Homo sapiens: one gene and its partners. The protein of the gene in region 3 interacts with the protein of the main gene of each other region in a biochemical or structural test. Each region holds a gene or a part of one and is shown on either strand. Other genes may lie near its edges.

Region 1 (7,551 bases), on a different chromosome or scaffold from region 3:
TGGGAAGGGAAGCATGGATTTTGGGGGACACTAGAAGAAAGAATCAATAGCATTTGCCGCTGATTGGATGTGAACAGAGGGAAGAGAAAGGGATGACTCAGGAGAAGCTTCAGTAGGAAGTGTGTTGTGGGGAGGATTTAGAAGCAGGCATGGACTTTGTTGGAAAGTGTTTGCAAATGGAAAGATTTACATATCTATCAGCAGGAGTGTGCTCTCAACTGATTATCTTATAAAAGCTGTGGAGTTTCTTTATGAGATAGTCAGACAAAAAGTATCACACGATTTAAAATGGCAATACCAGGGAGCAACTCCTGGCTCACACAGGATGCAGTCTGGAGAATGCACTCTGCTCTAGAGTTACAACCCTGGGCTGAATCTCAGGGTTTTTTGTTTTTTTTTAACATGGTTTCATTGTATATATTTGGACAAAATACTTTCTAACTCATCGATCCAGTTTCCTTATCTTTAGGTCTCCATGAAACAAAACAGCCATATTTGTTGAGTGCTTTATTATGTTAAGCAGGCTTTGTGTTAAGAGCTTTATTTGGCCGGGCGAGGTGGCTCACGCCTGTAATCCCAGCACTTTGGGAGGTGGAGGCGGGTGGATCACAAGGTCAGGAGTTCAAGACCAGCCTGGCCCAAATGGTGAAACCCCGTCTCTACTAAATATACAAAAATTAGCCAGGTGTGGTGGTGGGTGCCTGTAATCCCAGCTACTCAGGAGGCTGAGGCAGGAGAATCGCTTGAACCCGGGAGGTGGAGGTTGTGGTGAGCTGATATTGTGCCACTGCACTCCAGCCTAGGTGACAGAGTAAGACTCCGTCTCAAAAAAAAAAAAAAAAACTTTATTTGTGGCCGGGCATGGTGGCTCAAGCCTATAATCCTAGCACTTTGGGAGGCCAAGGTGGGCGGATCACTTGAGACCAGGAGTTCAAGATCAGCCTGGCCAACATGATGAAATCCTGCCTCTACTAAAAAAATACAAAAATTAGCCAGGCGTGGTGGTGCACGTCTGTAGTCCCAACTACTCGGGAGGCTGAGGCACAAGAATCACTTGAACCTGGGAGGTGAAGGGTGCAGTGAGCTGAGATCAAGCCATTGCACTCTAGCCTGGGCAACAAAGTGAAACCCTGTCTGAGAAAAAAAAAAAGACTTTATTTGCAACTTTTTATTCTTAGAATGCACATTCTACATTTAAAAAACATTTCAATATTTTGTGGCTTAAAGCAATATCCATTTTATTTGCTCACAATTCTGCAATCTGGGCTGGGCTTGGCTGTGCAGCTCTGCTGGTCTTACTGGTGGTCACTGATGTGTTTGCAGTCAGCCGGTGGGGTTGGCTGAGGCTGGGCTCAGCTCAGGTGCTGGGCAGCTGGACTTTTCCCTCTCTCCAAGTATCTCAGGGCCTTTCCTTCTCCATGTGGTTTATCCAACAGGGTAACTGGACTTCTTACTTAGTGGCTCAGGTCTCCTAAAAGTACAAAGTGGAAGCTTCCATACCTTCCTAGGGGATGGGATGGGAAAGGCAGGGAAGTGGCACAACTTCACTGCCACATTTTCCTGGTTAAGGCAAATCACTGGCCCAGTCCAGATTAAGTGGAAGGGGCTACGTAAAGGTATAAATAACATGAGGCTGGGCCATTGAAAGGCAGCAACGCAGCAGAGAGACTACCACAATATTATTTCCAATTTGTAAATGAGTAAACTGTGACTTAGGAATGCTAAGCTACTTGCATAATGTAGCAGATAGAGCCAGCTTCAAATATTGTGTTCTAAATCAAATATCAACAAATAAAATGTGTATGTGTTTTCACCTAGAATCCTGTGGGGTGGGTACTGTTATTGTCCCTAATTTACAAAGGAGGAAACCCAAGAATAGAGAGCTTAAATGTCTTGTCTGAAGTGACTCAGCTGTTTTGTTCCAGAAATTATACACTTATCCACTGTGCTGCCTCTTACGGGCAGTACCTGATACATACAAGACATCTGTAAATGTTATTTAATCTGAAGCTGTTGTTGGAATGGCTGGGACAACAGCAAATCTTTTGAATTATTCACTATTACATCTTATATGCTATTTGGGAACTGGGAGTTTTTCAGTTATCCTGTGTTAAGGGCAATTTCCGTTTCATACATCTACTTTATCTGTTGCACTATCTATTTCTTGAAGCTTGGAAAGAAACGAAGACTGCATCCTTGCCCATCCAGTTCCAACCCAGATTCTCACTGCCCATCTAATTCCAACCCTGATTCTCACCTTTCTTCGGGAGTGAGGACTTTCCTAGAGTAGGGCTGGCCTCAAGTTTTCATCTTTTAATCATCAAGTCAGCCTTGTGACTTCTGAATTAGTATCATTAGGTTCCAGTCACTTCCTCTTGTTCGATAGCTTATTTCCCCTGTTGTTGCAACTGTGATGGCTTCTGAGAGTAGCTTGCAAAGATTCTACTTTCCAAGGAGTGACCTGTGCTAGTTTCCCCTTTCCTTTTGCCAGTCCTATGGGCAGAGGACTTGCTGCACAGAATCCCAGCTACTCGGGAGGCTGAGGCAGGATAATTGCTTGAACCAGGGAGGCAGAGGTTGCAGTGAGCCGCGATCATGCCACTGCACTCCATCCTGGGCAATAGAGTGAGACTCCATCTCAAAAAAAAAAAAAAAAGGATGATACGTGTATGCCTGCCTTAGTCTAAGATGGCCCTAATTTCTTCCAGTCTATGAGGAGTCTGGAATTGGAGCCACCTCCAAGTACAGATAACAGGGGAAGTGGCTCACTTTGGTGGTTCTGTTTTGGATATGGATGCAGCCATTCAGGGAGTGGCCCCAAAATTCTACCTTTTCCGAGGCAAAACTATGAGTGGCCTTGTCTTTTCCTTAAACTTTTCTCCTCCAAGGCAGCTCCAGATTTTAACTTCGACTTTATTTTACCCTGTAAAAATATTAAGGCAGGCTGGGCGCGGTGGCTCATGCCTGTAATCCCAGCACTTTGGGAGCCTGAGGCGGGCGGATCACCTGAAGTCAGGATTTGAGACCAGCCTGGCCAACATGGTGAAACCCCATTTTTGCTTTTAAAAAATACAAAAATTAGCTGGGCGTGGTGGCAGGCGTCTTAATCCTAGCTACTTGGGAGGCAGAGGCAGGAGAATCGTTTGAACCCGGGAGGCGGAGGTTGCAGTGAGCTGAGATGGAGCTATTGCACTCAAGCCTGGGGGACAAGAGGGAGACGTCACTCAAAAAAAAAAAAAAAAAAATTAAGGCACAATACGTGAACTTGAAGAACATACAGTTCTCTTTTATTTAACAAACACTTACGTAACCAGCCCGGTGCTGTGCGAAGTGCTTTACATTGTCTCGTTTGATTTACTTAATAAACTCCTATTTGAATCAAATGGGGTGGAGTAGGGGCTTCCTGGAATTTGGCTTACCTCGCCATCTCCCCCCACCCTTTCCCCTCAGTGGAGAGGCAACCAGAGAGAAAAGAAATTGAGCTGCTCTGAAGGGCAAGGCCTCCTCCTACTTCCCGCAGCTGTTTCGCCAGACTTGACCTTCTTCCCTTAGCTAGAGGCAGGGGGTCTCCATCCCTCGCCCAGATCTAGTTGGTGGGAAGGTGGGTGGCTTTTTTCGGGTCACTGGCGCACCCTCTCTACTTCCAGCCACCTGCTCGGGTTCCATCCCGGCTCCAGGCTCCCCGGAGGGCGGCAGGGACATTCCAATCCTCCCACAACCCTCACGGATGTTGCGGGGGAGGGGGGTGCAATTGCTCTTCTCTTCCAACACCCAGCTTTTTCTTCTCAATCTCTAGTGGCCTGAGTCACCCCCGTAGAGGAAATTAAGGATTGATGAATGGTTTGAAAGTTGTTTGTTTACAACCCACCCGTTGGCGAAGCCGCATCTCCAGTGACAGAGGCACTTTCTGGGCACCGTCTGTGCTCTAGCAGACAATTGAGAGCCAGGCAGCCAAGATGCCTCCTCGCCAGACCAAATATGGTCACAAGAGCTAAGCAGCCTCTCGTGGAAAAGCTGGCCTTGTTGGTGTCTCCCCGCGCCGGGGCGCACCCGGGCCGGCCTTCGGGCAGAATCGCGGGTCAGTGCGGCGCTCCGGGTGCTGCAGGCCTCGGCGCCTGGCTGCAGGGGAGGGCGCGGTGTCCAGGACCGGCCCTTCCTAGGCCTGAGCCCCTCATCCGCGTGCCCTCCGCCACCCCCGGCCTTGGTTTCGGTCCACAACCCCTTGATGAAACAGGCTCAGGCCACTTTCCCTTTGATCCCGCCCCAAGTCCGTGGTAAACTCAAAGGAATGCAGATGCAGGTCTGAGCGGGAGAGGTCCGCGCGGCCGGGAGGAGTGGGTGGGGGGCACCCGTCTCCTCTTACCCAGTAAAGTACCCATCACGCCCAGGGTTTTCTGGAGCCGAGGTGGGAGGAGGAGGAGGAGGAAGAGGAGGGGCGAGCGGGGGCTGGCCGGCTAGGGACTAGGAGGTCATACATAATTCAACAGCTCAACTTTCGGGCCCGCCTCTTTCCTGGGGGTGGGAGTTTGCTCCAAACTTTGTTTATGGGACAGTCCGGGAGCTGCTGCGGCCGCGCTGTCTGCTTCTCCTGCGCCTCCTTTTCGCCCAGCACTAGCGCCTTAGGCCAGCTCGGGGGATGTGAGAGCCGAAGCCCTTAGACTGCCAGGCACAGAGTCGGGTCGGGATTTGTCAGCCAAGCCTCGGCTCCAGCTCCGCAATCTCGGGACTCACCCGAGCGACCCAGGCCCGACGGCAAGTTCGGGCGGGACGGCGGCCGCCGCGCGCTCAGGCTCAGCTTCGCTGCCCGCCCAGGTAGTGCCCGCTGGAGCTCGCGCGCTCATCCGGCACCACTCCAGGGCTCCAGGCTCCTCGGGCTTCCGGAGTCGAGACGTGGTGGAGTTGGCTCGGGCTGAACTTCTTTCGGGGGGCTGCCTGTCCTGGAATCGTGCGACCTTTCCTTTGCCATCCTGCGGTTCAGCAAGCCCCGAGTGCAGTTATTCCCTCCACCCCTCGCCCTATCTTCTCCTCCTCCAGGCAACTTCTTTGCTTCAAGAAAGTTGCATAATTCTCGAGGCCAGGAGGGACCCCTCCCCCATCCTGCTGGTCTTACCGCTGAGTGTCTGGGATCTCCAGGCGGGCAATTATCTGTCTCCTCGTTTCCTTTTCCCTCTATTCTTTCTCCCACCATCTCGCCCTCTCACCCTGTAACCCTCTTACCCACTTCCTCCGACTTTAAATAAAAGGCTGATCTGACCTTCTTTTTGCAGAAGATGAATCCGGCCTCGGCGCCCCCTCCGCTCCCGCCGCCTGGGCAGCAAGTGATCCACGTCACGCAGGACCTAGACACAGACCTCGAAGCCCTCTTCAACTCTGTCATGAATCCGAAGCCTAGCTCGTGGCGGAAGAAGATCCTGCCGGAGTCTTTCTTTAAGGAGCCTGATTCGGGCTCGCACTCGCGCCAGTCCAGCACCGACTCGTCGGGCGGCCACCCGGGGCCTCGACTGGCTGGGGGTGCCCAGCATGTCCGCTCGCACTCGTCGCCCGCGTCCCTGCAGCTGGGCACCGGCGCGGGTGCTGCGGGTAGCCCCGCGCAGCAGCACGCGCACCTCCGCCAGCAGTCCTACGACGTGACCGACGAGCTGCCACTGCCCCCGGGCTGGGAGATGACCTTCACGGCCACTGGCCAGAGGTACTTCCTCAAGTAAGTCAGCCTGGAGCCGAAGAAGGCACCAAGTCACAGTGCCCAACGCGCGCGTGTGTTCGTGTGTGTGTGTGTGTGTGTGTGAGAGAGAGAGAGAGAGAGAGAGAGAGAAAGAGAGAGATGGTGCGTGTCCTTCCACGGTTATTTCACAGATATGGAGAGCTGGAAGCAGGGAGTGAGTCTCTGAGTGTTGGAATTGTAAGGGATCAGAAGCAGGGATCAGAAGCAGTGGTGAAGTTCATCCACCATAAAACACACAGGTGACTTTGCCTTGAATCTGCAGGACTGAAGCCAACTCTTGGGCACAGACCCTTAGTCCCTTCCTTGGCCACTCTAAGTCAGATAGTCCAGAGCCAGGCCCTTTGGGATGTGACACCGAGATAAATCAGAGAAAAGCTGTGAAGCTTGGGGAACAGAGGGACTTTTGGTGAAGTAGGTGGTCTGCAGTTTCTATCTTCTTGGGAAAAGCAAGCTGGAAAAGTGAACAGTGGTTGGTAGGCCATAGTGCTCCCAGCTGGGTGACATAATGACCACACAGCACAGTGATGTTATTAGCAACTGTGTGGTGGAGTAGTTGTGGGCTGGACAAATCAATCGTGTGGAAATTGTTAGGAGTTTTATTACATTAAACTTGTTAACCTAAAATACCATCAAATCACAAGCCTGCTTTGTCACTCTTCTTCCTTTCACATTGTTCCAGCTTTTTGATGTCATGAATTTTACATTAGTTGAAATTTTCAAATTACACCCCACAGGAAAATATATTCTCAAACACTAGAGGAGGTTGTTTCAATTGTGGTACCCTAAGATAACTACATTCCTCAGGAGAAACCAGGCTGGAACTTGAAATGTTCCATTGAGGTCATAGGGTCAGGCTATCAAAGATGGAGGTTGTGCCAGCCTAACCACTTGTTTCAGGATTGCCTGCACTGCCAGTGAGGGAAACTCCTCTCCTAAGAACTTGACTTAGACTTCATTTTAAAGCCCATATTTCTTTAGTAGAGTAGCCTTAGTGCAAAAGTGAAGACACTATGTACAATTTTAAAAGTTTAATCAAGCCTTTCTTTGGCACTAATATTTGATGCTCTGATTGCTATGAGAGAGCCCTAAGAATGAATACACAGTGATGGATGAAGTTTACTATAGTGAGCCCATTGATTCATACCAGTGACCAATTCTTATTACTTCCCCATCTCAAGGCTGTTGATATCTTGTCCAAGGAGTTCTTTTGTTGTTTCTGAGATTGGTGTAATGCTGAGATTCTGAAACAGACTTGATGGTCATTTATGCCACAGCTGGTCTTCTCTGGGTTATTGAGTGATAGTTTGGACATGTGCTCAGTCCTTTGACTTCTAAGTAGCTGGTGGAGTCAAGAATATGATGTAATAACATGACTTTTGTTGTTGTTGTTTGTTGTTTGTTTTTGTTTTTGAGACAAAGTCTCACTCTGTCGCCCACGCTGGAGTGCAGTGGCACAATCTCGGCTCACTGCAACCTCCGCCCCCTGGGTTCAAGCAATTCTTCTGCCTCAGCCTCCTGAGTAGCTGGGATTACAGGCACCCACCACCACGCCTGGCTAATTTTTGTATTTTTAGTAGAGACGAGGTTTCACCATGTTGGCCAGGCTGGTCTTGAACTCCTGACCTCAAGTGATCTGCCTGCCTCGGCCTCCTAAAGTGCTGGGATTACAGGCTTGAGCCACCATGCCCAGCCCTACATGATTTCTTTCTTTCTTTCTTTCTTTCTTTTTTAGATGGAGTCTCGCTCTGTCGCCCAGGCTGGAGTGCAGTGGCGCGATCTAGGCTCACTGCAAGCTCCGCCTACCGGGTTCACGCCATTCTCCTGCCTCA
Region 2 (7,000 bases), on a different chromosome or scaffold from region 3:
AAAGGAAACTGTGGCCCAGCCAGGCACAGGGACTTGTCCAAGGTCACACCGTGTTCTGTAGAGACCTGGGCTTCTTGCAAGTGCTCTCAGGCCCCAGACAAGAAGCAGCAGAGGCCTGTGTTGGCCCCTGGTTTTCCCCAGGTGTTTGACTGTGGGTGGAAAGTATGAGAGCCCTGGGCCCAGCCCTGCTCCTGACCAGCTGTGTGATCTTGGCCAAGTCACTTCCTCTCTCTGCCCTCAATCTTCTCATCTGTGGCCAGGCAGGCCTATCTCTGCCCTGTTTTATGCCACAGCTGCCAGAGAGCCCTGGACACTGTAGAGGGCTGTGCACGAAGGTGTGATTGGCATCAGGATCAGGAGCCGGAGCAGGTGAGCACCTTGCTGCTGCAACTGGCCAACTCTGAGATCAGAAAGGGAAAAAAGGAAAGAAATCTCTAGTTTGCAGATCGGAGGTCAGAAAAGCTGCCTGTGGCTTATGCTATGTGCAGAGCCTGAAACACTGGCCCATCCGCCTGCTGTCCCACTGCCCTCCTCTGCCTTCCCCCTGCCCAGCCACAGGTATGGGTCAGGAAACCCATTAATGCATTAATTAACCTAAAGATCACCTGATGGGGGCAGATTTCTGGGCCCTACCTTGATGAATCAGGAGGTCCCAGGGGCTACATTTCCACAGGTACCCCTGGGTTTTCACCCATTTCACTCCGCACCCTGGGGAGCTGAGGTGCTTAAGAGTGGGCTTGGTGGAGCACATAGGCGCTCAGAGCTGGGGGTGGCCTAGACACCATGCTGTTCTGCCTGTACCTGTCACACGTGGGGAAACTGAGGTCTCCAGCCTAGTGGGTGACTGAATGAGACTGAAACTCATTTCCTCTCCCCACCAGTCCCCTACCAACCCCTAGCCCCTGGCTTCACCCTGCACAGCTAAATCAGGCCCTCCTGAGGACCGATGAACCCTCAAATCCAAAACAAGGCCATCTTCTCAGCAGACAGCTGGGAGCCATGCTCCAAGGGCACTCTCCAAGACCCCATCTCTACAAAAAATTTAAAAATTAGCAGGGTGTGGTGGCATACTCCTGTCGTCCCAGCTATGCAGGAGGCTGAGGTGGGAGGATCGCTTGAGTCCGGGAGGTCAAGGCTGCAGTGAGCCGTGATTGTGCCACTGCACTCCAGCCTGGATGACAGAGCGAGACCCTGTCTCAAAAAAAAAAAAAAACCGTTTAAAAAATGGGTTATGCTATGGAAAACTCCTGGGACCTCCTGCTGGGCAGTGTGGCTTCGGCTTCACCCCGGTCTTCACTTGACAGTCTGGATGGAGGCGGCGGGAGGCAGGGGGAAGCGGGAGTGACGGTAAAAGCCTTAGAAGTGTCATTCACAGTCTAGGAAATCTCTGCAGGGTCAGAGAGTTCCAGATATGTGGCCAGAGACCACGGCTGGCAGGACCAGGAGGGCAAGTGACCAGGCCCGAGCAGGGGCCACAGCTCAGGTTCCTAAAGAAACAGAGGTCCCTGGGTATGGGGGAGAGTGTGTTGGTCTGAGGGTCAGGAGAGCTGGGTCCCAGGCCGGCTCATCACTGGCGAGTGACCTTGGAAAAGCTGTGTAAGCCCTCTGGTCCCAAGCTCTCCCCTTGTGAGAGGGGTCAGTGATCCTGCCCCCCAGTGTCCTTGGTGAGGGCAGCTTCTCCTGCCCACTGCCCCTTGGGGTGAAGGGTCAGAAACACTGCAAGTCTCAGGAAGTAGCAAGGAGAGCAACTGCAGGGACAGCCCGTTGTGTTTGTTTTCTGTGGCTGCCATAACAAATGACCACAGGCTAGGTGGCTTCAAACAACAGACGTGTATTGTCTCCCACTTCTGGAAGCCAGAAGTCTAGAGTCAGGAGCCAGCAGGGTTGGCTTTTCCTGGAGAGGCTGAGGAAGAGCCTGTCCCTTGTCTCCCTAGCTACGGGCAGTGGCCAGCAACCCTTGCTCTTCCTCACCTTGTGGCTGCGTCACACCCATCTCTGCTTTCATCTTCACCTCACTCCTTCCTGTGTGTCTCTCGGTGTCCTCTCCTCTGCTTCTAAAGACATTGGTCATTGGATTTAGGGCCCAACCTAGACCCAAGATGATTTCATCTCAAAATCCTTAGCTAATTCCATCTGCAAAGATCCTATTTCCAAACAAGGTCACATTCTGAGGTTCCAGGTGGGCATGAACTTTGGATAGGACACCGTTCAACCCACTGCAGTCACTAAGATTTATGAGGTGTTTATTGCTCATAAGACCTGCACACAGTCTTATCTCTTCTTCACCATCACCCATTTTCCGGATTACAGAAACCAGGGCCCAGAGACATTAAGAATGTGCCCAAGTCAGGCCAGGCGCAGTGGCTCATACCTGTAATCCAAGCACTTTGGGACGCCAAGACAGGTGGATCACCTGAGGTCAGGAGTTCGAGACCAGCCTGGCCAACATGGCAAAACCCCGTTTCTACTAAAAATACAAAAAAAGTTAGCCGGGCCTGGTGGTGCATGCCTGTAATCCAGCTACTCAGGAGGCTGAGACAGGAGAATCATTTGATCCTGGGAGGTGGAGGTTGCAGTGAGCCAAGATGGAACCATTGCACTCTAGCCTGGGTGACAGAGTGAGACTCTATCTCAAAAAAAAAAAAAAAAAAAAAAGAATGTGCCCAAGTCACACAGCAAGTGAGGGGCAGAGCTGGGATTTGAACCCAGGTCCCTGGTGCTCCTTCACCTTTCCACCTTTTTGTAGCTGGCTGGGGGATGCCCAGAGACCCCTTAGGGCCCACAGCTAGGAATCCATGGGGCAGGAATTCCAGCCAGCCCTATGAAGACCCCAGGTCTGCAGGGGCTCCTGGGCACCAGAGAGAGGCTGGAGACAGGCAGGGGAGCTTCAAGGTGTGAAGGGGCCCAGCCGTGGTCCCAGGAGACCAACATGTGGCAGAGGATTGAGAGCCACAGTTCCTTGTCTCTGCCACTGACTCTGTGAACGTCATTGTGCTCTTCCGGAGAATAGGGGCAGCAGCACTGACTTTATGGGGTAATTGCCAAGTACCGAAATGTTCATCATAATAGTACTAATCGCTAAAATGTGTCCGCAAGCACTTTACAAATGCTTTTTGTTTTCCCATGTAATGCGTGGGAGGGGAATTGCTTATTCAGTCATGTGCGTTCGGTTGTGTGTGGTTGAACCAGTGACTTCGCCTCAGTTTGCTCCTCCGTAAACCAAGGGTTAGCTGAGCACCCATCTTCCCGGTTGTCACGTGAGGCAAACAGGATCCAAGTACAGGGCTTGGCCCGGGTGTGGTCCAGGTAGAGGCTCAGCGGATGTTTTCTTGCCTGTAAGATGGGATAGTGGTAGTATTATGATGATGCTATTATTTGTTGTATGAGGATTTGGTGAAGTAATGCAAAGGAAGCACTTGGCTCAGGGCCTCGCCAGAAATTGATGGAAAGTGGCCTCCTTTGTGGCATCAGAAAGATTTGAGTATAAATCCTAATGCCAGTGTTTACTACTGTGTGACCTTGGGCAGGTAGCTTTGCTTCTCTGAGCTTGACATCCTGATATGCAAAGTGGAGTGGGAAAAACCTGCCTCACAAGATTGTGCCACGAGATGATGGGTAGGTAATGTCTCAAATGGAACCCTCATCATGCCAGGCATTCGAAATATGTTGAGCTTCTGCCCTGCTTGTGGGCATCTTAAAGATGTCCCCAGAAGGGGCACATCCTAGTCCAAGGAGGGTGGATTTGATTTGGGAAAATTGGGAGCAGTCGTGCCATAGTGGAGCATATGGGATTGGTGGAGCCTATGGGAGAAGCAGTGAATGGATGACACCGTTTGGGGTCCAAGCACCATGTAGCTTTGAAGGAAGAAAGCAGGTCTCTGCAAGCTTCTGTGCTGCCTCTGAAGGCAGTTTCCTATAAAGTGGTGCCTTTCCTGTGCCGGCTGGGCTACTCTACCGGGCCATGTCTGGCTGCCCCGGGACCATTTTGTGGGAGCCATGGGGGCGTCATCTGGATGAACTCATTCTAGCCCAGCTCTGTCAAACACCTGCCTTGCAGGCCCAAGGGAGCTGTGGAGGCAGTGGGCGGGGAATGCTGTGGCAGCCATTTGGGGTGCCTCCTGCATGCCTGAGGCATCCACGCTGAGTGAGGCCCCCAGGCTCATCCGGAGCAGAGGGTGCTGGCCTCCAGCTCACTGATCCTTCTGAAGTTTTTTGATCTGTGCCCATGGGCAGGGCACGCCATCCTACGTGGGCCTGACTTAGCGTTGATGTAGCGCAGTAGTTGAGGACAACATCTGGGCCCAGGCTGCTTGGGGTCACATCCAATGCCTGGCCGCTGACCAGCTGCATGTCCTTAATCTCCAAGCCTCCGTTCCCTCCACTGTCAAATGGAGATGACAACACTGCCTGCCTCATCAGGCCGTTGTGTCGGAGACTGAACTGTGCGGATTCCAAGATATACATTTTGACATTTCTGAAGCCAGGTTGTGCCTGACAACTGGTGTTACACCACAGTGGAACCAGCCATGCCTTTTATTTCTTAAATATACGTAAAGTAGTGATACAGGTTAGAGTCAAGAAAATATGATAAATAAGATCAGTTTTATAAGGGGCTCAGAACAGAGCCACCAGGCTGGTGGGAAGAAGCCAGGATTGCCACCTGCCTCCCCAGCTCAGTTGCGGTGAGTCCCTCACTGGGTCCTTTGTGTCCACTCTGAAACAATCAGCAAAAGAACACCTGCTTGCCGGAGCAGCTGTGAGAAGTCGGCAAACTTTTGTGTGTATTACGTGACCAGCAGAGTCCCCATATGCAGTAGGTGCTTAATAAATGGCCGTGCAAAACAAACAGCAAAGACCGTAGTACAAGGAGGAATTTAAAGCATAGACTCTGGGATTCTAATTCCTGCTCCACCATTTCCATGCTGTGTGACCCAGCACAAGTTTCTTAATTTCTCTGTGCCTTAGTCCCACCATCTGTAAAATGGGGATAACAAAAGTGTCCAATTCATAGGATTGTTGTGAGGATTAAGTAAAATTAAAGTGCTTAGGACAGCCCTTGGCAGAAGTGTAAGCAATTATTATTTGATGAACTTTAATGAGTCTCTTCTAGTTCAATAAATGATACTAAAATAAACACTAGGCTCAATAAAATAATAGCAGTTGAGGCTGCACTTGCTTTATAGCTGAGAAAACCAAGGGCCAAGAGGCATGCTGGTTTGCCCAGGATCACACAGCCAGCTCCCAGCAGACTGGAACCACAGCCCAATGTCCAGGCACCAGCCCAATGCTGCCTCTTTGCCCATGTTGGTTCAGGACTCTTTCTCTTATGGAGAAAGCAGTTCTTGCCATGGAGAGGAGGGTTTCTAGAAGAAGCCACCAGCAGATACATCACCAGTGCTTCAGGGATCCACAGGGTAATTAGGGCCCTCATTAGAAGTCGTTTCTGTCTTCCCTCAATTTTCTGCCTGACCACCACAAACAGTGGAAGGGGCCTAACTGGGATGCCCACCCTGCCCACAGCTGCCCAAGGTCAGCAGAGCCTGCCAACCATCCTGCAAGCCCACCAGCCAGCACTCTCCTGGCCTCCAAGTGGCTTCTGCAGAGTTGACACAGCAAAATTCCCTCCTGGAGACAGCAAAAGCCGTGGCTGGCCCGTTGGTCCAGCCACCAGACAGGCTAGGGCCACAAAGTGGATTGGAGTTGGGGGGAGGACAAAGACCTGGGTGCAGCCAGCCATGACAAGCACTTCAAGTGACCTTGGACAAGTCACAGTCTCTTTCTGAGCATCAGTTTCCCATCTTTGAAACAAGCCTTTTGGAGCCAGATGGGCCCCCTGAGACTTTAAATGTCTAAAATTCGAAGCTGCCTGGACATTGCTGATGTCCAGGTCACGGGGGAAGGGGCGGGGTTGGAGGGGTGGAGCTAGTGTCTGCGTGTGGAGTGCAATGTGTGTGGATCTTGGGTTGGACTCACTAGGAGCAAGCATGAGACAGCGCTCAGGAGAAAGGGGCTGAAAGGAAACAAGGTAGGGAGAGAAAGAGATAAACAAGCGTGTGGCCTCAGCTGATCCCTTGGGGGATGTGGGGCATGAACTGCGCCCCAGGTTTGGCTCTGCCTTGAAGCAAAAAAGCTGGCCTTTCATACCCCATATCAGATAGTTATTGGCCACGGCTGCCTTCTGAGTGGGATGCTGTGTGCAATTGCCCGGGCAGGAGCTCCTGTTCTTCCCAGGGCAAGCCTGCAAAGAAGGGGCAGCCGGGAGCTCTAGCTCCCAGCAGCTGGGGTGTGGAAGCTGCAGACCGGTAAGGAGGACTAGGGTGGGCACCAACAGTGTCCACTCTGTTATGTGGATTTGGGATGCAAAGGTTGCTGGGTGCCAGTCTCTTCCTAGCAACTATCTGAAGGCAGCAGATTAAGAGCTCTTTAGGCCACTTCTAAATTTATCAACTTACATGACTCACTTCAGATTAAAATGAAGCCCTTCTCCCCATCCCACCCCCAGCCAATTTCAGATTTCTGAGCTCAGAGCATCCTGAAGAGGGCATAGAATGCAAATCAATAAAACCAGTATTAGCTAAGTATTTGGTGTGGACCAGGCTGTTTGTCGGGCTCCTTGCTGAGCTCAGAGATGAATCAGCTCCAGAAACAACTCCTGCTGGGAGGCGGAGGCAGCCCCAGGTAGAAGGTGGTATACGACTGCGGGTGCCCTGCCTGGGGGCTAGGCCATGAATAACTTCCAGGACCAAGACTCAGCCTCACCACCACAGTATTTAGAGCTTCCAGAGCCTCAGTTTCCTTATCTACAAAATGGGGTCAGTGTGGTGAAGAGTATGTGGCCTGGGCCACTCCTGCACTCAGGGAGTAGCAATAAAATTAAGCGAGACCTGGCACTGGGACCCAGGGCTGTTTCTAGGCACTTCTCTGCCCTCTCAGAGGCCTGAGTCTGCCCCATGACCTCAGGGGAAGGAAATTCTGAGCTGAGTGGAGACATCAGCTTCCC
Region 3 (7,095 bases):
ACCTCGCACTAGCCTCATCCTTGGCCCTCAGGAAGAGGGTGTCTTGACCATCTGCCGAGCAGATCTCCAGATACCTGCAGGCACAAATGGGTGGAGACAAGGACCTGACCATTAGGCTGCAGCTGCCCAACCCTGGCCCAAGAAACCCCACCCACCACCAAACCAGGAGAAACCAGGGGGATGTCCGTGAGAGAATCAGGAGCAACCCTCACTGCTGGGCTCCAGCCACAGTTGCTGGGGCTTCATGGGGCATAGGAACAAGCGAGTGTGACATATACACACGTGTTCATATATTTTGTGGGGTTTTTGTTGTTGTTTTTGAAACAGAGCCTCGCTCTGTCACCCAGGCTGCACTGCAATGGCCCAACCTCTGCCTCCCAGGTTCAAGTGATTCTCCTGCCTCAGCCTCCCAAGTAGCTGGGATTACAGGCACACGCCACCACACCCATATAATTTTTGTATTTTTAATAGAGATGGGGTTTCACCATGTTGGCCAGGATGGTCTCGATCTCCTGACCCCGTGATCCGCCTGCCTCAGCCTCCCAAAGTGCTGGGATTACAGGCATGAGCCACCATGCCTGGCCTTATTTTTTTATTTTTAGTAGAGATGGGGTTTCACCAAGTTGGCCAGGCTGGTCTCGAACTCCTGACCTCAAATGATCACCCCGCCTTCGCCCTCCAAAGTGCTGGGATTACAGGCATGAGCCACCGTGCCCAGCCTACACGTATGCAGATACACACAAATATACACACACACTGAAACATGCATGATGGTGTAATAGGGCCTAAATTATTGCTGTGTGGCTATTCCTAATCTTGCCCCTTTCTCCTGGTTTCTAAGGAACATCCTCTTCTGGGCCAGCTCCCAGGTTCTCCTTGTTGCACAGAACCAAACTAATTCACTAATAAGAGCAGGGGAAAAAAAAAAAAAAAACTAAGCTGGACATGGTGGCTCACGCCTGTAATCCCAGAACTTCGGGAGACTGAGCCAGGACGATGGCTTGAGCCCAGGAGTTCGAGACCAGCCTGGACAACAAAGTGAGACACTCATCTCTAAAAAAGAAAAAAAAATTTTTTTTTTAATTAGCCAGGCATGGTGACACGTGCCTATAGTCCCAGCTACTTAGAGGCTGAGGCAGGAGAACCACTTGAGCCCAGGAGTTTGAGGCTGCAGTAAGCTATAAGGGTGCCAGTGCACTCCAGCCTAGATGACAGCACAAGACCTCATCTTAAAAAAACAGAAAAACAGACAGGGTGTGATGGCTCACGCCTGTAATCCCAGCACTTTGGGAAGCCAAAGCGGGTGGATCACCTGAGGTAGGGAGTTCAAGACCAGCCTGATCAACATGGAGAAACCCCATCTCTACTAAAAATACAAAATTAGCTGGGTGTGGTGGCACATGCCTGTAATCCCAGCTACTAGGGAGGCTGAGGCAGGAGAATCGCTTGAACCCAGAAAGTGGAGGTTGTAGTGAGCTGAGATCGTGCCATTGCACTCCAGCCTGGGCAACAAAAGCGAAACTCCGTCTCAAAAACCAAAAAAAAAAAAAAAAAAAAAAAAAAACAGAAAAACAAAACAACAACAAAACTAAAGAGGCTTGAGGCCAGGCATGGTGGCTCACACCTGTAATCCCAGCACTTTGGGAAGCTGAGCCGGGCAGATCACTTGAGGCCAGGAGTTCAAAACCAACCTAGCCAACAGGGCAAAACCCCATCTCCTCTAAAAACACAAAAAATTAGCCAGACGTCATGGCGGGCACCTGTGGTCCCAGCTACTTGGGAGGCTGAGGCACCAGAATCACTTGAACCTGGGAAGCAGAGGTTGCAGTGAGCTGAGATCACACCACTGCACTCCAGCCTGGGTGACAGAGCGAGATCCCCCATCTCAAAAAGAAATAATAAATTATTGTTTTCTAAACCACTAAATTTTAGGGTTGGTTTGTGATACAGCAACAGATAGCCAAAATACTAGCAGAAAAGACTCTTTGGCTTTTGTCTTATTTCTGCCTGGAATATGAACACAATTCTTGGGATGCAGCCACCATCCTGCCTCCACGAAGAAGAAAACCGCCCATAATTAAAATGGTAGAGCAGGAAGCTAGAAGCCTAGTTCCTTGATGGCATCCTTGAGCATCTACAGCAGCCTGAATAGCTGACCCCTGGACTTCTTTTTAAACATGTGGGAAAATTAACCCCTTTTATTTAAGTCATTGCTTGTTGGAGTTTCTGTACTTGCAGCCCAGTGCAATCCTAACACTGAGTAAAAGTTTGAAGCAGTTTTCATTATATTTTGGTTGCCAGGCTGTATCCCTATGACTGGGATACTGCACTGACAGTGGGCCATATGGAACCCCAGTTATATTGAGGTTACCTATGTAGGTACTCAGGCATGTACATGTTAAAACACACATGCACACACATATGTGCATACACATACAAATAACATATAAACAAACACACATGTACAAATCTATACTCATACATGCAAATGCTCTCATATATACATACAAGCACTTGCATTTACATGTCATCTACACGTGCGCACACTTAGAAACATATACACACGTTTCAGGTAATGTCTGGGATCAGGCTGGGAATCTAAGGTTCTATGAGTCTCTAGAAGGACTAATACTACTTCACCTTCACACTCACAGAAGGCCCTTCCGGGCCGGGCATGGTGGCTCACCCCTGTAATCCCAGCACTTTGGGAGCCCAAGGTGGGTGGATCTTGAGGTCAGGAGTTTGAGATCAGCCTGGCCAATGTGGTGAAACCCTGTCTCTAGTAAAAATACAGCCGGGCGCGGTGGCTCATGCCTGTAATCCTAGCACTTTGGGAGGCCGAGGCAGGCAGAATGCCTGAGCTCAAGAGTTCAAGACCAGCCTGGGCAACATGGTGAACCCCCGTCTCTGCTAAAATACAAAAAAAAAAAAAATTAGTCAGGCATGGCGGCGTGCACCTGTAGTCCCAGCTACTCAGGAGGCTGAGGCAGGAGAATTGCCTGAACCTAGGAGGCGGAGGTTGCAGTGAGCTGAGATTGTACCACTGCACTCCATCCAGCCTGGCAACAGAGAAGACTCTGTCCCAAAAAAAAAAAAAATACAAAAATTAGTCTATTAAAAATACAGGCGATGGCTCATGCCTGTAATCCTAGCACTTCAGGAGGCCAAGGTGGGCGGATCACCTGAGGTCAGGAGTTCCAAACCAGCCTGACCAACATGGTGAAACCCCATCTCTAATAAAAATACAAAATTAGCTGGGCATGTTGGCAGGTGCCTGTAATCCCAGCTACTCAGAAGTCTGAGGCAGGAGAATCGCTTGAACCCGGGAGAAGGGGACCGCAGTGAGCCAAGATTACACCACTGCACTCCAGCCTGGGCAACAGAGCGATACTCCGTCTCAAAAACAAAAACAAAGGCTCTTTTTTAGAGCATCGGCAAGTGACCTGTGAATCACCAGTTTTTGCCTCATGGGGGCAGGCAAGAGGTGTGGCATCGAGTGAGACCAAGAGATTTGGATGCTGGACGTTAACCAGCCCTCCCAGCCAATGTTGGGCATTTGCTTGGCATTGAACCTAGGCTGTCACTAGGACCCACAGCCCAAGCTTGTAATGCATATAGCAGTTAAGCATCACCTCCAACAATGCATATCCCACTTGACCAAATATGCTCCATTTAGCCACCACCATCACTCAGGTATCTTGCACCTTCCAAAGCAGAAAGGACTACCAGGATTGAGGCAAGTGCCACCCTTTCTGGTTGTGTGATCTCAAGTAGGTTACTTCCCCTCTCTGTCCTCATCTATAAAATGGAGGTGAGCCGGGAACGATGGCTCATGCCTGTAATCCCAGCACTTTGGGAGGCCGAGGCAGGCAGATCACCTGAGGTCAGCAGTGCGAAACCAGCGTGGCCAACATGGTGGAACCCCATCTCTACAAAAAATACAAAAGTTAGGCAGGGCACAGTTGCTTACACCTATAATCCCAGCACTTTGGGAGGCTGAGGCGGGGGAATCACCTGAGGTCAGGAGTTCGTGACCAGCCTGACCAACATGGAGAATCCCGTCTCTACTAAAAATACAAATAATTAGCCAGGCATGGTGGCAGGCGCCCGTAATCCCAGCTACTTGGGAGGCTGAGGGAGGAGAATTGCTTGAACCTGGAAGGCAGAGGTTTCAGTGAGCCAAGATCATGCCATTGCACTCCAACCTGGGCAACAGAGTGAGACTCTGTCAAAAAAAAAAAAAAAAAAAAAAAAGTTAGCCAGGTGTGGTGGTGGGCGCCTGTAGTCCCAGCTACTTAGGAGGCTAAGGCAGGAGAATCACTTGAACCCAGGAGGCAGAAATTGCAGTGAGCCAAGATCTTTGCACCACTGCACTCCAGCCTGGGCGACAGAGCAAAACTCTGGCTCAAAAATAATAATAAAATAAAATAAAATGGAGGTGAAATAATAGGACTTTGCCCATTGGGCCTCTGTGAGAGCTAAATAATATTGCACAGGGAAAGCACTCAACACAGTGCTGGGTACACAGTAAACACTCAGTAAATGTTAGGTGGTTTCAGTATTATCAATGAACTGTTAAAGGCTGCTCAGATGTGAAGGATGTAACCTTCCATGGCCCTGATAAAAAGGTTACCAGACATCTCAGAGCTCCAGCAGAGTGGGAAGAGACGAGAGGATCAGTGAGTCCAACAACCTCATCTCACAATGGAGAATCTAAAGGTCAGTGAGGAAAAGGGCCTAGTTCAAAGAGGACCAGGACTGGAACGCAGGGTTCTTCCTCAGACCAAGTTCATCCCCAGATGTGAGCTGCCCAGAGGAAGAAGTGAGAAGCAAAGCACACCATCATCTCCATGGCTTCACTCAGGCTTCCAGTCAATCTATTTTTTAAGCACCTACTATGTCCTGGCATTGTGCTGGTCATTCGTACAACACAGAGGTGTCTTTCCATTGGTCCCACCACCTGACGCCAGGGCATCTGTCCATCTGAGTTGCTCCCAACCCCAGCCTTACCTGGGCTCCGGGTCATTGGGGGTGCACCTCTTCGAGACATATGCCATCTTCAAGGACATGTGTTTGGCCTCGCTGAAGTTCCGGGGTGTGGGGCCAGGGGAGGAAGGCTGCCGCTGAAGGGGTGAGGCAGGAGGTGAGTCCCAGCCGACCGAGGTCCCACCAGTAGAGTTCTTGAAATACGGTGAGACGTCCTTCATATACTTGACTGATTGGGAGAGACATCAGCAGTCACCACTGTGACATGGGCTCCCAGCACATATCACAATTGTCACTAATTTATTAAGAGTTTAATTTACGTGTCACTATTAGACCCTTAGTAAGCAAGAGTCCAGTAGTGATATTAACAAATTCTTCTAAGTTAAAGTCTCTGACAGGGCAGTGGAGCAGAAAATACTGTATCCCTTCTCTCTATCCCTATATAGAGATAGGGCCCGCCTATATCCCTTCTCTCATTTTCCCCATGGTTAATAGACATACAGCCACCTGGAAGAAAGACTCTATTTCCCAGCCTCCTTTGCAGTGAGGTGTGGCCATGTGACTTTTTTTTTTTTTTTTTTGAGACAGTTTCTCTCTGTCACCCAGACTAGAGTGCCATGGTGTGATCACAGCTCGCTACAGCCTCAATCTCCCAGATCAATCAATCCTCCCACCTCAGCTCCCCAAGTAGCTGGGTCTACAGGTACGCACTACCACACCCAGCTATTAATTTTTTGTAGAGATGGGGTCACGCCATGTTGCTGGTCTTGAACTCCTAGACAGTGTATACAAGAAGGTGGTTACAAGACTTTCCCAGGCTGGGCATGTTGGCTCATGCCTGTAATCCTAGCACTTTGGGAGGCCAAGGCGGGCAGATCATTTGAGGTCAAAAGTTTGAAACCAGCCTGACCAACATGGTGAAACCCCGTCTCTACTGAAAATACAAAAGCTAGCCGGGCGTGGTGGCTCGCACCTGTAATCCCAGCTACTGGGGAGGCTGAGGCAGGAGAATCACTTGAACCCGGGAGGAGGAGGTTGCAGTGAGCCAAGATTGTGCCACTGTACTCCAGCCTGGGTGACATAACAAGACTCTGTCTCAAAAAAAAAAAAAAAAAAAAAAAAAAAAAAGACTCCCAGGCTGGGCATGGTGGCTCATGCCTGTAATTCCAGCACTTTGGGAGGCCAAGGCAGTGTGGATCACTTGATGTCAGGAGTTCAAGACCACCCTGGCCAACAAGGTGAAACCCTGTCTCTACTAATAATACAAAGGTTAGCTGGGCAGGGTGGTGCATGCCTGTAATCCCAGCTACTCGAGAGGCTGAGGCATGAGAATCACTTGAACATGGGAAGCAAAGGTTGCAATGAGCCAAGATTGCGCACTCCAGCCTGGACGATGAAGTGCGACTGCCTCAAAAAAAAAAAAATGATGACTTTCCCAAGACCTTGTCTCTCTTCTCCCAACAAGGATATACCCTCTGTGGGTGCCTGATGCCTGCTAGCCCGTGGGCAGCCTCTCTTCCTCTGCTCTCAACCACACCTGCTCCCAGGGCCATCTGGCTTGCTAGCTATCTGACGTCTGCAGTCAAAGCCCAGCCAACGTGCCCTGTGAGTGGACAGCCCAGGAAGGAGTTAGGAAGTAATTCTTGGCCCACCTCCCTGGAAGAACCAGATAAGAAGCTATTTCTGTCGCAGGAGATGCCTCTGAGGCTCAGATAGGATTCAAAGCAAATGGAGGCAAATAAGAGGGAGTTACAAACCCTATTGGGGTTGGGATAGAAGCAATGTTGAAAGAAACCAGGGTCAGGTTTTTTTGGGAGAAGCAAGCCTGGGTCTGACTTTTGGGGACTAGGACTCAAATGACTTATCATCACTGTAGCAACGACTTACCCCAGGACTGACTATTGGATTATGTCTCAAAGGGCAGCAGAAGTGGGACATATCACAGCCTACTTGACAGCCAAAAACCATCTCCCCTCTTTTTCCTTTGCTAAGAGAACCCTGAGCCCTAGAGGCTCAGCTTCTCCCCAGCTTAGAGGGAGAATCTTGATTGGTCAAATCAAATCATGATCATTCCATCCTTTTTGCTTGTGATTGGTTTAGAAAGGGGCA

The links. Proteins that work in one complex are often made in the same cells at the same time.
Region 1: the proteins of SNTA1 (region 3) and WWTR1 interact in a test that uses a peptide from one of them, tested with the Homo sapiens proteins (2 studies listed by IntAct, with this or other methods).
Region 2: the proteins of SNTA1 (region 3) and ATP2B2 interact in a test that uses a peptide from one of them, tested with the Homo sapiens proteins (one study listed by BioGRID).

Annotation. Positions count from the first base shown.
Region 1 is NC_000003.12:149,655,026-149,662,576, reverse strand, and holds the start of WWTR1 (WW domain-containing transcription regulator protein 1), read left to right. Parts: upstream 1-4,551; 5' UTR 4,552-4,812; intron 4,813-5,267; 5' UTR 5,268-5,270; coding exon 5,271-5,701; intron 5,702-7,551. UniProt on the Homo sapiens protein: Transcriptional coactivator which acts as a downstream regulatory target in the Hippo signaling pathway that plays a pivotal role in organ size control and tumor suppression by restricting proliferation and promoting apoptosis.
Region 2 is NC_000003.12:10,495,587-10,502,586, reverse strand, and holds part of ATP2B2 (plasma membrane calcium-transporting ATPase 2), read left to right. Parts: intron 1-7,000. UniProt on the Homo sapiens protein: ATP-driven Ca(2+) ion pump involved in the maintenance of basal intracellular Ca(2+) levels in specialized cells of cerebellar circuit and vestibular and cochlear systems.
Region 3 is NC_000020.11:33,412,709-33,419,803, forward strand, and holds part of SNTA1 (alpha-1-syntrophin), read right to left. Parts: intron 5,216-7,095; coding exon 5,011-5,215; intron 1,927-5,010; exon of another isoform or gene 75-1,926; coding exon 1-74. UniProt on the Homo sapiens protein: Adapter protein that binds to and probably organizes the subcellular localization of a variety of membrane proteins. May link various receptors to the actin cytoskeleton and the extracellular matrix via the dystrophin glycoprotein complex.